Linked DNA regions of Homo sapiens: all the other regions are linked to region 3. The links come from fine-mapping of genetic effects on gene expression. A gene starts in region 3. Each other region holds a variant in brackets. All regions are shown on one strand. Distances are between the middles of the regions.

Region 1 (5,000 bases), 42 kb before region 3:
TTAAACAATGAGGAGCCCTGCAGCCAAGTGCAGAGTGGTAAACACACATGGAGCATCTAATCACAGGCTGGGTTTCTCCACTGGAGATGCTTCTGGGTATACAGTTGAGCCAAAGTGAAATTTGTACACATCGCCCCTCAAACAGGGAATGATTAACTTTGAGTAGCAACAAAAATACCTTATCTCGGCCCCAGAACCTTGACTGAGGCTCTGAGTACTGAAGGATGTCAAAGGCAGTCTCTTTGATGATAACTGGATTCAAAATCCTGAAATGTTTTGGCTGCAGTGGGATTTTTTCTGCCACCTGCTTCCAAAAGAAGAGTCGTACCCAGAATGGCTAAGGAAAGCAAGCAAGCAGTTGTTAGTCATCCTTCTAGGGGAGGGGAGAAAGCATTCCCACTCATCAGACCAAGGCTGTGGGTGTGACCCCATGTGGCCCTGTGCACTGCCTTCTGAAGCAATCTACTCCTATAGATTGCAAAAGCTACGCAAATCCGGCACTCCAACTCAAAAAAGTAACTCTGAAATAGCCACTTCACACAGGCGGCACTGGACAAAGAGATGAATTGCAGAACCAGCTTGTATTTGTTTGAGGTAGACATTCCTCAATGGTGCTAACACCATCATTTTGTCTAGGGAAGCCCAAGTGAATAGGTCCAATTTAAGGCTATTAAGTGCTGAAACTGCCCTCACCTCGCATCCTCTCTCACTTACTCTATTTCCTAGTCCCATGAAGTCGTTTCATATATGCTTCATCTTCCAACTAGAACTTCTGCCCAATAGAAAATCCAGAAGACCATGATGACTGATATAGAATCAGCTTTGGAAATACAAATTTGTCATCACATGGAGTTTACGTGAAAAGTTGAATACGTCCCATTAGTTTCACAGACAGCTAGTTTGTGCATATGTCTATACATGTGCATACACTCCTCGACAGCTGACCTCTGAAATGTATTTGAATATAATGGGTGAGACTATAAAGTAATGTGACCAATAAAGACAAAAGGAATATGACCAAGTGAGGGCCATCTCCTCCATAGCTGCCCTTCTGGAATGCCATGAATTTATTCCAACAAGGGAACCACTGACCAAAGCATTTTTGGAGCTCTTTAGAGTATTCCTTGATTTTTATATGCTTTTGAATACCCTCAAAAAGGCTTATATCCATCTAAGTAAGTCTAATTTCTGGAACTAGCCAAAAGCTATGCAAGTTCATGTCTGGAGAACAAGGTGGGTGAACAACCTCAGTAACAGCAATTTTGGTCACAATCTGGATATTCCCATTAAGCAATGATCACCATTTTCATGCGACTCTTAATTAGGTCTGGCCCATCCATGCAGAGTGTACAGCTGTACACAGACATAGGAGGAAAGCACCCACTCCTGGATTGACACAACTGCAGCAGGGCCTCTTTATAACCATCTCACTCCATTCCCGCCACCAAAAGGAAAAATACTCCCACTGTATGGTACTTTCCGATTTCAACTGGGGGGCAGGGTCTCATTTGTCTCTCAGGAGTGTGAAATTTCACCCATGAAATCAAAAGCACTGAGGAAGTGCCGGTGCTGAGACCGCACCCAACAAATCTCCCACTAGCTCCTAGTATTTGTTCAGTTTAAATTATAAACACCCTCACCACTGTCTCTACCAGGAATTCTCCAACCTGCCCATGTGCAAGAACCACTGGAAGAGGGCCAGGTGCAGTGGCTCATGTTTGTAATCCCAGCACTTTTGGAGGCTGAGGCGGGTGGATCTCCTGAGGTCAGGAGTTTGAGACCAGCCTGGCCAACATGGTGAAACCCCATCTCTATTAAAAATACAAAAATTAACTGGGCGTGGTGGCAGGCGCCTGTAATCCTAGCTACTCGGGAGGCTGAGGCAGGAGAATTGCTTGAACCTGGGATGCGGAGGCTGCAGAGAGCCAAGACTGCACCACTGCACTCCAGCCCTCTAGCCTGGACAACAGAATGAGACTCCATCCCCAAAAAAAAGAATTGCTGAGGGGTTTCTACAAAGAGAGTGATCATCATTTGAAAGACAACACATAAGTATGCATTCCGCTCTGCGTGTTTAAAAATAAAAGGCTATAATTACAACTAAGTAAGACTCCTTCACTTTTTACTAAGGCAGATTTAATAGAAGTATTAGTGCTTACCAGGGTTTCCTTTTTTACCATTGCTTGAAGCCAGTTGAAATCAACACTCTTAAATAAAACAGCAACAAATAAGTCATTGGAATAATATTCAAGGTCAGACAGTGGTGCGCCCTCTGGATAAGTCATCCTTATAGTAGTTTTATTTCCAACATGTTCTGAATATCCCTCAACTGGTGCACTGTTTAACCTATTTAAATAAAAAGGACAAAGACACACTGACAAAGCAGGCCATCAACCATCTCTGTACACCAGGCAGTATCCATGTCATGTCCTCCACGTCTTCTTATGACTAAGAATGAGTGCATGGTTTGCAGCCTCATCTCCCCTCCCAGCTCTGTCTTTCTAGGATTTCGAGGAATGCAGCCTTTAGTACTTGAGCGAACACTTGTATCTAATCCCTGAATGTCAAGCAATTTCATCTAGCCCTAATATTTTTACTCAATCTAAGCATATTACATTTGGGACTTTCTCTGGGTGCCAGTAAAATATCCTCAGAAATTTTCCATTGTGCTCAGATGTTAGTTCTTGCCAGAATTTCAAAAAAGGAATCAGAAGGGAAAATCTAGTCCACCATGCCTGGCTGACTTTTTGATTTTCTGTAGAGACAAGCTGTCTCTATGTTGCCCAGGCTGGTCTTGAACTCCTGAGCTCAAGCGATCCTCCTGCCTTGGCCTCCCAAAGTGCTGGGATTATAGGCATGAGCCACTGCGCCTGGCCAGAAAACAATTTTTAAACAGTGAAACCAAAAAAGAATCTAGGATGACTGCCTATTGGCTATCATGGTGAGTCTGAACTTCTCTGTGTGCCTTCCATGTCCCAGCCAGCACTGCCTTCCAGGACTCACTGGCCCCAAGCCCCTTCTCCAGAAGCCAGGCCCCTCATTGACTC[A/C]AGTCTCTTGCTGTGTCCTCTTCTTGCCCCTGTCTGGGAGTTGTGGTCCTTTGCTGTTTTACTTGAATCTACCCACCTTCCAAATCTCACTTCCTCTGACAAGGTTCTGCCACTTACTGTAGCCAGCAGCATGCTCCTCCAACTTAGGGTCAGTATGACAGTTTGGAGCATCCAACCATTTTGTGTTTTTGTTTCAACTTCTCAAACGTTAAGTCCCTTGTGGGCAGGGACTGTGAAGAGCTTCCTGTGTCCCTCACTGTTCCTGGAGCCACACTGACCAAGAGCAGTGCACTGAGTTCTAGAGGAGAAAGGTTGGTTTTAAAAGCGATGTACCCCAGTCTGGGCAATTCGGAGAAACCCCATCTCTACTAAAAATATAAAAAATTAGCCACGCGTGGTGTGTGCCTGGGGTCCCAGCTACTGGGGAGGCTGTGGTGGGAGGATCTCCTGAGCCTGGGAAGTTGAGGCTGCAGTGAGCTGAGATCACACCACTGCACTCCAGCCTGGACAACAGGAGTGAGACCCTGCCTCAAAAAATAAAATAAAATAAAAACAATAAAAATAAGTAAACAAACAAACAAAAAAAACCAATGTACCTTATCACAACATCGAACTGGTTCAGGGTGTGGCCCAGTTCTAATCCGTGCAGTATTCCTCCGCTTCCAATAACCACACAGCGCCGACAGGTCTTGGCTTTCAAGTGTTCAGGGAGGTCGTGCTCTGGCAAGAGTTCCAAGAGGGTCTGGACTTTACTGGAGAACTTCCGGAACCCAAAAGGAGGATCGTACTTGGACTCAGCTTCACTGTCTTTGGGGGCCTTCTGCACAAAAGGGAGTAAGTCCACGCTATACCTGTGCTCAAATAACAGCGCCATTGATGTCTTGGCAAACTTGGGACGACATTCCTTCTGCAAGACTTGCTGAGCATATTTCTGAGCTCTCTGGAATGAAATCACACCAATCTGGGTTTTAAAAACTCTCCTGCATTAAAAATATACTCTTCTAGATGACAATTTGTCCTATGATGTCTGATGTAGCTCCCGTGTTGATTACTGTCTTTTAACACAGAATATTTGCTTTTTAGAGTTAAGTTTGGCTCAGAAACTTGAAGAAACAACCTGGGAGAATCACATGACAAGGAGATAAACACAGCAGGGTATTCATTTCATTGCACAGGCAAAGCAAGAAGGACTCCCGCCTCCCACCCCCAGCCTAACACTGTTCAAATACATTTGGGGTGAAAATGTACTTCGGGGTGTCTAAGACTTCATGTTTCATAAAATTCTGATACATGCTACAACATAGTTAAACTTTGAGGACATTATGCTAAGTGAAGCCAGTCACAAAGAGACAAATACTGTATGACCTGACTTATATGAGGTATCTAAAGTAGTCAAATTCATAAAAACATGGTTACCAGGGTTGAAGAGAGGGAGAAAAGGGGAGTTGTTTAATAGGTACAGCGTTTCGGTTTTGCAAGATGAAAACATTCTAGAAATTTGTTTCACAAGAGTTTAAATATACTTAATGCTGCCAAATGGTACATTTAAAAATAATTATGATGGTAAATTTTATGTTTTTTTTAACCACGATTAAAAAAAAGGTTTCATATATCAGGTTCTCATCTAGCAGGATGACAAACAGGCTTATTTATCAGTTGAGATACAGAATGTCACAGTCTAGAATGCAAATTACCTGAAAGAATCAGGGAATGTCCCCTTAACACAGAAATTGCATTGGTTTCAAAGCATTTTCCCAGCCTGCATTTCCATATGCATTTTAATGTTTTGCCTCAGCCAGGAGCTGCGTGAATGCAACAAAACTCAGAGGAAAGGCGGGCATGGCGGGTCACACCTATAATCTCAGCACTTTGGGAGGCCAAGGTGAGAGGGTTGCTTGAGCCCAGGAGTTCGAGGCTAGCCTGGGCAACATGGTGAGACCCCACCTATACAAA
Region 2 (5,336 bases), 22 kb after region 3:
TGCCTCAGCCTCCCAAGTAGCTGGGATTATAGGCACCCACTACCACACCTGGCTATTTTTTTTGTATTTTTAGTACAGGTGGGGTTTCACCATGTTGGCCAGGCTGGTCTCGAACTCCTGACCTCAGGTGATCCACCCGTCTCAGCCTCCCAAAGTGCTGGGATTACAGGTTTGAGCCACGGCACCCAGCCCCAAGTCTGTGGTTTGAGGAGGCTGTGGTGTCAAACAGTGGTTCTGGCCTTCCGCAATTCAAGCTCGAGACTTGGCTTTCAGTCAAATATTCCTCATTTGTTTGCTTTCCTGTTTCCAAAATGTTATTGTTGTTATCTCCCCATAAAATCCTTTAACATAAAACATCACTGTAAGCCATGGTAGTGGACTCACGGAGGTTTACATAGAGAGTTGTCCACCTGCACGTCCCACGACAGCCAAATCCCCAGGCCTCCCCCATGCAAGGCCACACCCAGAGCCATGTGCAGATGGGAAGACAGGCCCCCGTAGGTTCAGGGCATACTTGGTCTTATGTGGGCTTGTTCTCAAAGCAGTGAATCAGCAGTGTAAAGATGGGGGCGGAAGGGCAGATGCAGCTCACCCTTGTGTCTCATGTGGGCACGCCCAAAGTTCAGCAGTCTTGGCAGTTTGGATGGAGGAGAAGAGCTGCAGGCCCTCCACCGTTTCTACCCCCAGGCATCAGCATCCTGAACCCACTGACACGCTCATACACGACATTAATCTGCCCTTCTAGAAACCATGCCTGTTCTTCTAGAAACCAGAACCATGTGTGGGTTCTGATGCCTGAACTTGTGTCTGAGCCAGCCCAAGTTCTTGCCAATCTCTTCTTTTCTGCACCTGGGTGACAAGGTTTCACAGTTTTCCATTTATGTACCTTTCTGGGCTTCCCATGCACAGGTCTTGTCATAACCTGCCACACATCAAGGTTCTGGAAAGTGGAAAATGTGCAGGGGTTTCACCCTCAAACTCAAAACTGCCTCTAGGTAAGCAAGGCTGGGCCCCTTGGAGGTCTCCCACCCTTCAGAAGGCTTAGGGCCTAGACAGGGTCACCACTAGCCTTTGAGCAAATTAGAAAAAAGCGCTTATTGGAATTTGCATAATCAATATACAAAGCTCTAATGACTATAAGGAGAATGTATCCTCTTTGATGTGGTGTCCTTGTGCAGTGCACCACCTGGGCAACTGTACACAGTGGCCTTGAGTCCAAAGTCACAGCAGGCCAAGTGGCCTCTTTTGGTCTTTCTTCTTAGCTCACAGTCAATATTACCTTTATCTTTCCATCCTGTTGCTTAGGAGAGGCCTGGTGGAAAAAGAGTCATAACAGGCAGTGAGAAGCAAGAATGTTGTTTCAGTTATAATAAAACTGAAATCTATAGCTAGACACCCAATATATGTCTATTTTATTATTTTTAAACTAATAGACTTCGGTTTTGGGATCAGTGTTAGGTTTGTAGAAAAATTGAGCAGAAAATACACAGAGCTCCCACATACTCCCTCACCACCACCAAGTTGCCCGTTATTAACATAGTATAGTACATTAGTTACAACTGATGAGCCAATCTTGATATAATGATATTGTTAATTGAAGTCCATGGTTTACATTAGCATTCACTGTTAGCATTGCACATTCCATAGGTTCTGACACATGTATGATGACATGGATCCACCACTGTAGTATCATACAGAGTAGTTTCACTGCCCTAACAATCCCCTGCCCCACCCTCCCTTGCCTGGAACTCCTCACTACATTATTTTTTTAATCCTACATTCCCTGCTCCTTAATCAACACTGACGATTCAGACCCCAACTCCATTCCCTTCCTCTGTGGGATAGAGTAGGAGAGGGAGGGGTGGAGAGGGGCTGGGAGCTCCCCTTGGACGCCAACCCTCCTCAGCCTTTTGTTCTTTTCTCTGCTCACCCAATTTTCCTCTAGGAAGGAGATCAGCTGCACAAATCAAGAAATGCTAAAACTACTGCTTTCTTCCCCTTCCTCCTCCTCGGGCAGCCACATCAGATCAGAAGTGAGAGTTGTAGGCACTCACTTAAGAAAAGCATCCAAGGCCAGGCGGTGGCTCGCACTTGTAATCCTAGCACCTTGGCAGGCCCAGGCACAAGGATCGCCAGAGCCCAGGAGTTTGAGACCAGCCTGGGTAACACAGTGAGACCCCATCTCTATAAAAAATAAACAAAATTAGCTGGGCACGATGGTGCACGCCTGTAGCCCCAGCTATTCTGGAGGCTGAGGTGGGAGGATTGCTTAAGCCTGGGAGGTAGAGGCTGCAGTGGGTCAAGATCATGCCACTGTACTCCAGCCTGGGTGAGAGAGTGAGACTATCTCAAATAATAAAAATACAATAACGGCCGGGCTCGGTGGCTCACGTCTGTAATCCCAGCACTTTGGGAGGCCAAGGCGGGTGGATCATGAGGTCAGGAGTTTGAGACCAAACTGGCCAACATGGTGAAACCCTGTCTCTACTAAAAATACAAAAATTAGCTGTGCATGTCTCTAATCCCAGCTACTCGGGAGGCTGAGGCAGGAGAATTGCTTGAACCTGGGAGGTGGAGGTTGCAGTGAGCCGAGATTGTGCCACTGTACTCCAGCCTGGGCAATAAGAGCGAGATTCCATCTCAAAATAAATAAATAAATAAATAAAAATAAAATAAAACAAAAAGAAAAGCATCCAATGAAGACATAAGTCTTTTAATCTTGTGACATATTAAAACATTTATAAATACACATTTTACTATTTTATCTGAATATTGGTAGAAAGCATCTGCTGCATTGTATTGGCAAAGGACACTGGTTGAAAATAGGGTTTGGAGGCCAGACGTGGTTGCTCACGCCTGTAATCCCAGCATTTTGGGAGGCTGAGGCAGATAGATCACGAGGTCAGGAGATCGAGACCATCCTGGCTAACAC[G/A]GTGAAGCCCAGTCTCTACTAAAAATACAAAAAATTAGCCGGGTGTGGTGGCATGCGCCTGTAGTCCCAGCTACTCAGGAGGCTGAGGCAGGAGAATCTCTTGAACCCAGGAGGTGGAGGTTGCAGTGAGCGGAGATCAATCCACTGCACTCCAGCCTGGGCGACCGAGAGAGACTCTGTCTCAAAAAAAAAAAAAAAAAAAAAAAAAATAGGGTTTGGGAATCCTGTTTTGCCTTGTGTAATCCTGAGAAAGAGTTTCCAGTAACAGTCAAACCATGTTCCTGCCAAAAAACAACTCTCAGTTGTCCTGTTTGTGATGCAAAGACAAAACCATGTGGGCAAAATGATAATCAAATATTTAGGAACTTAAAGGGCGTTGGTGACTGTTAGTAGGATGCACTGAGTTATGCTGCAGTAACAACCCCCAAAGGTCAGTGTCTGAAAACATTGATTTCTTGGTCACATTACATGCTCCTCCTGCATTTGCAGGGGTAATGGAGGTGAACAGCTGAAGTGTTCTGCCAACTACTATTAATCAGAAGGATGTTGGCCATGAAGCTAGCCTTCGATTAGATTGTGAAGAGGTCTGGAGAGGGACGTGGGCAGGGCTGGCTTTATGGGCATTAATATATATATTTTTAAATGTAGTCTCACTATGTTGCCCAGGCTGAAGTGCGGTGGCTCTGTGTGATCATAGTGCACTACAGCCTCGAACTCTTGGGCTCAAGCAATCCTCCTGCCTCAGTGTTTGGAATAGCTGAGACTATAGGCATATGCCACCATGCCCAGCCTAATCATTTTTGAACAAGAGCTCTGCATTTTCATTTTGCACTGCACTCTGCAAATGACTATATATAGCCATCGTGGTCCCAGGGGAGGGGCCAGGAAAGCCAGAATGATAGGCGGGCACTCTGGGAGAGGGGAGCAGCAATGATTTACCAACGATCTGAAAGTGTTTCAAATCATTTAACAATTGGTCTGATAACCAGTACGTATGAGCTGAATATCAGCTCTCTACATGGGTGGGTTGACATGATAGTCCCTGGAAGAGGCCCACATTCATTAAGACAATCATTTGGGGTAAATGTGATTTTTTGTTTCTTTTTTTTGAGACAGAGTCCCGCTCTGTCGCCCAGGCTGGAGTGCAGTGGCACCATCTCGGCTCACTGCAAGCTTCACCTCCTGGGTTCACACCATTCTCCTGCCTCAGCCTCCCAAGTAGCTGGGACCACAGGCGCCGACCACCACGCCCAGCTAATTTTTTGTATTTTTAGTAGAAATGGGTTTTCACCGTGTTAGCCAGGATGGTCTCGATCTCCTGACCTCGTGATCCACCCACCTCGGCCTCCCAAAGTGCTGGGATTACAGGCGTGAGCCACCGTGCCCGGCCTTTTTTTTGAGACAGGGTCTTGCTCTGTTGCCCAGAGTGGACTGCAGTGGGCTGAAGTGATCCTCACACCTCAGCCTCCCAAGTAACTGGGCATACATCACCATGCTCTTTTTTTTTCTGTAGCTATCTGCTTAGGAACAAAAGGAAAGGCAGTTTCTTGAATGAGTCAGCTTTCAGCTTAATTTTTTCCTTTAGGCATAGTGAATTGGAGTCCCAGGTTTTTATTCTTTTCATGAGAGCAAACTTTTGTTTGCAAACAGCATTATCATTTTCATTACTCTGCGGTTGTTCTCTTTAAAAAAAGAGAAAAAAGAAAAAAATCCCTTAGCCCAGGATTAGCAAGTATCCAACATGCATACTCCTGCTTTCCCCTTCTTATCCTCTTCTTAGCAAGGGCTGTCATGACTGGTTAACCATATTACTCCCTCCAGCTGGTCCTGGATGTAGCCACAGAAGCCTCTACACAACACTCCAATCAGTCGCTAAGAACATAGCAGGCTGGGACCAAGGAAAACCCCCGCCTTCTCAGTGCCAGCCTTTAGTCAGATCCTGAAGTGTTTCTGCCTTGTGACAGCCGTGCTACAGATATTGTTGTGTCATAGTTTGTCTGGTCTTTGTTTTTGGATTCATGGGACAGAGTTTCTAAACCCTTGGAATTTTCTGAGTGGTAGAAGAATATTTGTTATCCGTGGTGAGCCCCTGGGATTACTCCTGAGTTTATGCTAACAAGGTGACTAATGGCGGGCCCATGGAGGCTGGCCAGGCTGGAAAGACCAACTACATATGTGATTAGAGGGTTGGAATTTGAGCCTAGAGGGGTAGGAAGCTGGAGATCAAGTTTGATCATGTGGCCGAGTCACTCAATCATGCCTATGTAATGAAACCCCAATAAAAACTCTAGATACTGGCTGGGCACGGTGGTTCATGCCTGTAATCCCAGCACTTTGGGAGGCTGAGGCGGGCGGATCACCTGAGGTCAGGAGTTTGAGACCAGCCTGGCCAACATGGTGAAAC
Region 3 (5,293 bases):
CAAATGCTGCAAACTGCCCAAATGTCCACTAACAATGCGTGACTATGTGGTATATTCACCCAATGGCCCCTATCACCAATGAGAGTGAACATGCTTCAACCATGGGCAGCATCATGAGTGATTCTCAGAAACTCAATGCTTAAGGAAAGAAGGCATACACTAGCCAGCCAGGCGCAATTGCTCACGCCTGTAATCTCAGCGCTTTGGGAGGGCAATGTGGGAGAATAGTTTGAGGCTAGGAGTTGCCAGAGACCAGCCTGGACAACACAGTGGGAGCCGTCTCTACAAAATAAAATAAAACAAATTAGCTGGGTCTGGTGGTGTGTGCCCGTAGTCTCAGCTACTGAGGAGGCTAAGGCAGGAGGATTGCTTGACTCCAGGAGTTCAAGGCTGATCCTGGGGGAGGCCGCGACTGGAGTACAACACAAGGGGAGCTCCCAGGGTCCCGGCCAGTTCTGTTTGTTGATCTAAGTGCTGAGTGCATGGGCATGTTCAGTCTGGAAAATTCATTGAGCAGGACACTTATGGTATGTCTACTTTCCTAGTATCTATGCTATACTTAAAAAAAAAAGAGGAAAAAAAAGTTTTGTCTGTCTGGTGTCCAGGTAAGACAAGCCTGGTAGTGTCCTTGAAGCCTCAAAGCTGATTTTTCTCCTGCTCCCTTACGCATTTCACTTGCTTCTCCTCTGCACGTGTGCTTAAGCTGGCTGTCTCCCGGGCGAGCCTGCGTGTCACCGTCATATTTATGGTTTCCTCCCACACCAGGCCTGTGATTCACCCCACTTTGGATGCCTTTGCTAACTTATGCCACCCACACTGATCCAGCCCTTGCTTTTCCTTCCTCAGCAGTTAGGCAGCTTGGAGCATCATTAACATGTGTATATTCCCAGTTGTTTTACTTCTGCCAGAGCTTCCCAGCAGACTAAAACCACGGAGCATGCCCTTCGGGAGTGATCTCAGTCCTCCATCGTGTCCACAGGCAGTGCGGATTAAATCGCTCCTCAGGAGCCAGGAGGGTGTGGAAGGTGAGCTTTATCCCTTCTCCCAGAAACTGCTGGCTCCAAGACACCCACCTCAGCCCTCCAGGACCTGGAATGGACTCCCACAGAGGACTCACCAACCTCTTTTCATTCATTGCCTCCCGAGGCCAACCTGCTAGATAAATTCCCCTCATTGCTGCAAATAGTCCCACAAGGCAAGCAGGGAAGAACTAGAGGAGCAAACCAAAGAACAAAGAGTGTGTTCTTATTCTGCCACGGATATATCCTTAACGTTCATCACCAATCTATTTTGATAACATGCAACAATTTACAATTTATGCCAAAATTATAAGAACTGTCCAAATAGTCGTAAATGTGAGCTCTCAAAATTTCTGCCTGTCAGCCCTCTCTCTTCCATGAGCCCCTTCATGCCTTCCTATCTCACCTGTTTCTTTTCTCGCCTAGACGAAGAAATGCTGATCATAACCCAGAATATCCAAGGGTCATTTCATCTTACAAAAACAGCAGCATCCATATAACAGGCACATGGGTAAAAGACTCAAGACATGCTGGTTATATGCTCTCGCAGTTCGTATGAATCTCTCCTTCTCCAAGTGACAGCTGGAATTCAGGTGCTTCTAGGCTCTGTTACTAGCAATGTTAGACACTCCTCGAAGCTGTCAAGCTCTCAGGATTACACAAGTGAAACCACAACCTGTCCTGACTGTATTCAAGTCTGTGCCCCTTCATGCAGCAGAAATGGATTCCTCTTCCACAGTTTCAGCAGCTGTATCCTTCCGTGGAAAAGGATTAGCAGCCATAAGCCCGGGGGAGGGCAGCTAAACACCAGAGGGCAGGAGATGAGTCTCCTTCCTCTCTGTGACACCCAGCACGGCCCTGCCACGAGGAGCAGGCAACCACTGGTGCCAGATGAAGCGCAGCACATAAAACCATTTTCCCCTTCAAATGAACGATGCCTAATTAAGCAAAAGCCGCATGCATGACTTAAGACATGAGGATATAAAATTCGTCTTCCGAGTCAGCTAGAGATTCTGCAGGATCCTCTACCCTCGTAAACGTATTTTTTTATGATTAGAAAAACCCGGGGCCTGGAAGGGACCTCGGCCATCGGCAGGGTAAGCTTCTCAGGAGAGACCATGAGCCCGAGCCCCACAGGGGGATCAGTGTCTGCCAAGGTCACCAAGCGGGTGTGAGGCAAGGGCAGGGCTCCTCGGGGATGCTCTCGGAAAACCCTGCGTTACTTACACACGCAAGGCGTACAATGAATGCACACCCGCGTCAAGCCACGGCTTACAATTCAGAAGAAATCAAAAGGTCGCCAAAACCTGTCTTCTCCGCAAGGCTGGCTGCAGAGAGGGTGCAGGGAAGGTCACCGGCAAATTTCTACCAGCGGCCCCACATCACGCCTCCCCGATGGATGCAGAGAGAGGTTTCAGGAGCTGCTAGTAACCTTGCAGGGGGTTCCCTAAGCCCATCCCAGGAAAACGAGTTAACTCGGCTCTGCTAACTCCGAAGCTTCCAGCAATGAATTAAATCCCGAGCTGCAGCGGAAAGCGGCGGGGAAAGGGCCACTGCGGCGGGACCCGACACCCGGCGGTCCGCCCCACCCTCTACCGCGTACACACCTGCGTGGGACCCCCCGCCCGGTCCACACGGCCCGGGACCACGACCCTCCGCCCGCGCCCCAGCCGGGCTCGCCTGAGGGTGTCGTGCCCTGGGCGCTGCCCGCGGGGTTCGAGGCGGAAACGCCGCGCCCAGCCGGCCCGGGAAGAGACAAGTCGCCGCCGCAGCCCCCAGCCCGCGGGCCCCCGCGACGCCGAGGAGGGGGCTGCGCCACGTACCTCGGCCGGCAGGTGCCGCCGCTGCCTCGGTCCGCGGCTGCAGGGGACGCCGCTCCGCGCAGCCCGCCGCCTTCGTCCGCATACTAATGAGGGGGCGCCGGCCGGCCGCCAGCCCGGTACCCCGCGCCCCCACCCGCCCCCAGCGCCGCTCTCGCGCCCATTCAGCTGGGGGCCGCCGCTCCCCCGCTCAGATGCGGAGGAGGGGCGCGTGGGCGGGGTCTGACGTCACGAGGACGCGGACGGCCAATCGGAGAGCACGATGCCTCCGCGGCGGCCCCCGCCCCCGGGCGCGCGGCCAGTCAGCCCTGCGGTGCGGTGGGCATTGCCAGAGCAGGGCGCCCCCTGCAGGGACGCACCCGGGGCGGGGGCCAGGCTGGGGCGAGCCCCCCTTGGTTCTGGAGAGGAAATGACATACAGTTTGTGAAAGCATAAATATTCGTGAAAATAAGAAAATTCAGGAAGGAAACAAAGCTTAAGGCAGTGATTGATAGGTTATTTCTTGGACACAGCTGAACGTATACTGTGCGCCTGCAACTTTCCGGTGGTTTCGGACCGGACTTCAGTGAAGCCAGTGAAGTCGGTCGACTTGCAGAACTTCCTTTCAGAGGGGCGTACACAGCACCGCGGCCGTGTGCCTGTGATCTCCTTCTGAGTTTGAAAAAGAAGATCCTAGACACCGAGCCAAATATGTTTGCATAAACCGGGAGACTTGTGGCTCTATTTTGTAACAGCTTGGCGCAGGGCAGCTGGTTTGGAGATGTCTCTGTTCTTCCCTTGGTGGGGGTGCCGGAAAAAATGTGCTGCCTGGGCGATCGAGGTTGGGGCAAAAGCGTTGCAAAGGAAAAGGTGGGAGGACTCTACTTTCACATTTCCCAAAAGAGTTTTACCATAAGACTATTTCTGGATTGTTCTAACGTGAGGATATTGGGAGCATTTTGAAAATACTGGAGGAAAAGCTGTCACTGGGCGATTTAAATCCGGTAAGTTGGCCAAGGCAGAGCAGCTGCTGGGGTCAGCGACAGCTGACCCTTGCAGCTGAGTATCTTGCCCTCTTAATCTTGGAGATCAGCCCAAGGCCCATGTGTTACAGGAAAGGGGTCCCGATCTAGACCCCAAGAGAGGGTTCTTCGATCTCACGCAAGAAACAATTCAGAGTAAGTCCACAGTGCAAAGTAAAAGCAAGTTTATTAAGAAAGTAAAGTGGTGGCTGGGCACAGTGGCTCACGCGTAATCCCAGCACTTTGGGAGGCTGAGACGGACAGATCACCTGATGTCAGGAGTTCAAGACCAGCTGGCCAACATGGCAAAACCCCGTCTCTACTAGAAATACAAATATTGGCCGGGCGTGGTGGCGCAAGCCTGTTGTCTCAGCTACTCACGGGGCTGAGGCAGGAGAATCGCTTGAACCCGGGAGGCAGAGGCTACAGTGAGCCGAGATCGCCACTGCACTCCAGCAGGGCATTCCTGAAAATAAGAGGAGGGACATATCCAACTAAGGTACAATGCTTGTAATGCTTGTATATATGGGCAGATGTCTTCTGCTACAAGGGTTTGTGATAAAGGATTAATTTTCCCTAATTACTATATTTTGCAATAATCAATATTATTATTTTTAAAGCAAAATTAGGAATGCCTTTGTTCTCCAGATATCGGGATATCTGGACTCTCTCAAGTCTGGGTCTGTTTAGTAAGCATTATTAATTTGTTCTCTTAACCATAAACACCTAGAGGCTAGGAATGCCTAGCTTTCAGGAAATGCAGCCTAGCAAGTCCCAGCCTCATTTTTCTAGCCCTCACTCAAAATGGAGGCGCTCTGGTTTGAACACTTCTGACACATGTGCTTGATGCAACACTCTTTACCTCTCTTTGTCTCCCCTGTCCTTCCCCTTCTCTTCCAGATTCCCCTTGTCGGCAAAGCCAGGCGCTGATAGCGTTATGGCTGCCATGAGAGTCAGCAGTATCCCAGCTTCCAAGGATGGGTGTAAGGTGGGGGTGAGGAAGAAAAGGAACTTGAAGCTGCCTCCTGTCCCAGAATCACAAGACATCTGTTAAGCCCTTACTACCTCATTCACTCCACTCACATTAGGTTGACCCACTTGGGCAGCAAGACAAGCAGGCCTGCAAACTTCCTTTTCTTCATCAGCCACAGAGACATCCTCAGCTATTATTCTGGATTAAGGCAGAGATCTCCAAACAGCAGACTAAGATCAGCCTCTAGATCTCAAAGCCTTACTGTTATCTCTCCAAGTCAGTGGCTGATCTCAGAGAAGCTTCTGAATAGTGACTAGCAAAGAGTCACTCAGGCTACTTACAAATCCAGGACAGCAGCGTTTTTTTTTTTTTCTTTTTTAGAGACAGATTCACTCTGTCATCCAAGCTGGAGTGCAGTGGCACGATCTTGGCTCACTGCAACCTCCACCTCCTGGGCTCAAGCAATCCTCCTACCTCAGC

What was found. PIP is the estimated chance that this variant, and not a neighbour inherited with it, causes the effect.
Region 1: its variant is the best candidate, but not a certain one, in a credible set for the expression of ST3GAL5 in whole blood (INTERVAL, PIP 0.86).
Region 2: its variant is the best candidate, but not a certain one, in a credible set for the expression of ST3GAL5 in blood mononuclear cells (TOPMed, PIP 0.63).

Annotation. Positions count from the first base shown.
Region 1 is chr2:85,844,218-85,849,217 of GRCh38, forward strand. ST3GAL5 (ST3 beta-galactoside alpha-2,3-sialyltransferase 5) reads right to left here. Exons shown (of 7, transcript NM_003896.4): 4 at 3,644-3,987; 5 at 2,160-2,346; 6 at 179-337. Among named protein-coding and RNA genes, the nearest start is that of ST3GAL5, 42 kb to the right of the region's middle. RefSeq lists an enhancer at 3,288-3,347. The variant A/C (reference allele first, on the strand shown) is at 3,048.
Region 2 is chr2:85,907,507-85,912,842 of GRCh38, forward strand. No RefSeq gene overlaps it. Among named protein-coding and RNA genes, the nearest start is that of ST3GAL5-AS1, 21 kb to the left of the region's middle. The variant G/A (reference allele first, on the strand shown) is at 2,933.
Region 3 is chr2:85,885,982-85,891,274 of GRCh38, forward strand. It overlaps ST3GAL5 (ST3 beta-galactoside alpha-2,3-sialyltransferase 5), which reads right to left and starts at 3,009. Exons shown (of 7, transcript NM_003896.4): 1 at 2,843-3,009. The coding sequence starts at 2,924. It overlaps ST3GAL5-AS1 (ST3GAL5 antisense RNA 1), which reads left to right and starts at 3,299. Exons shown (of 3, transcript NR_110569.1): 1 at 3,299-3,822; 2 at 5,195-5,224. RefSeq lists enhancers at 1,591-1,710, 1,721-1,850, 2,189-2,689, 2,381-2,460 and silencers at 2,631-2,750, 2,791-3,410.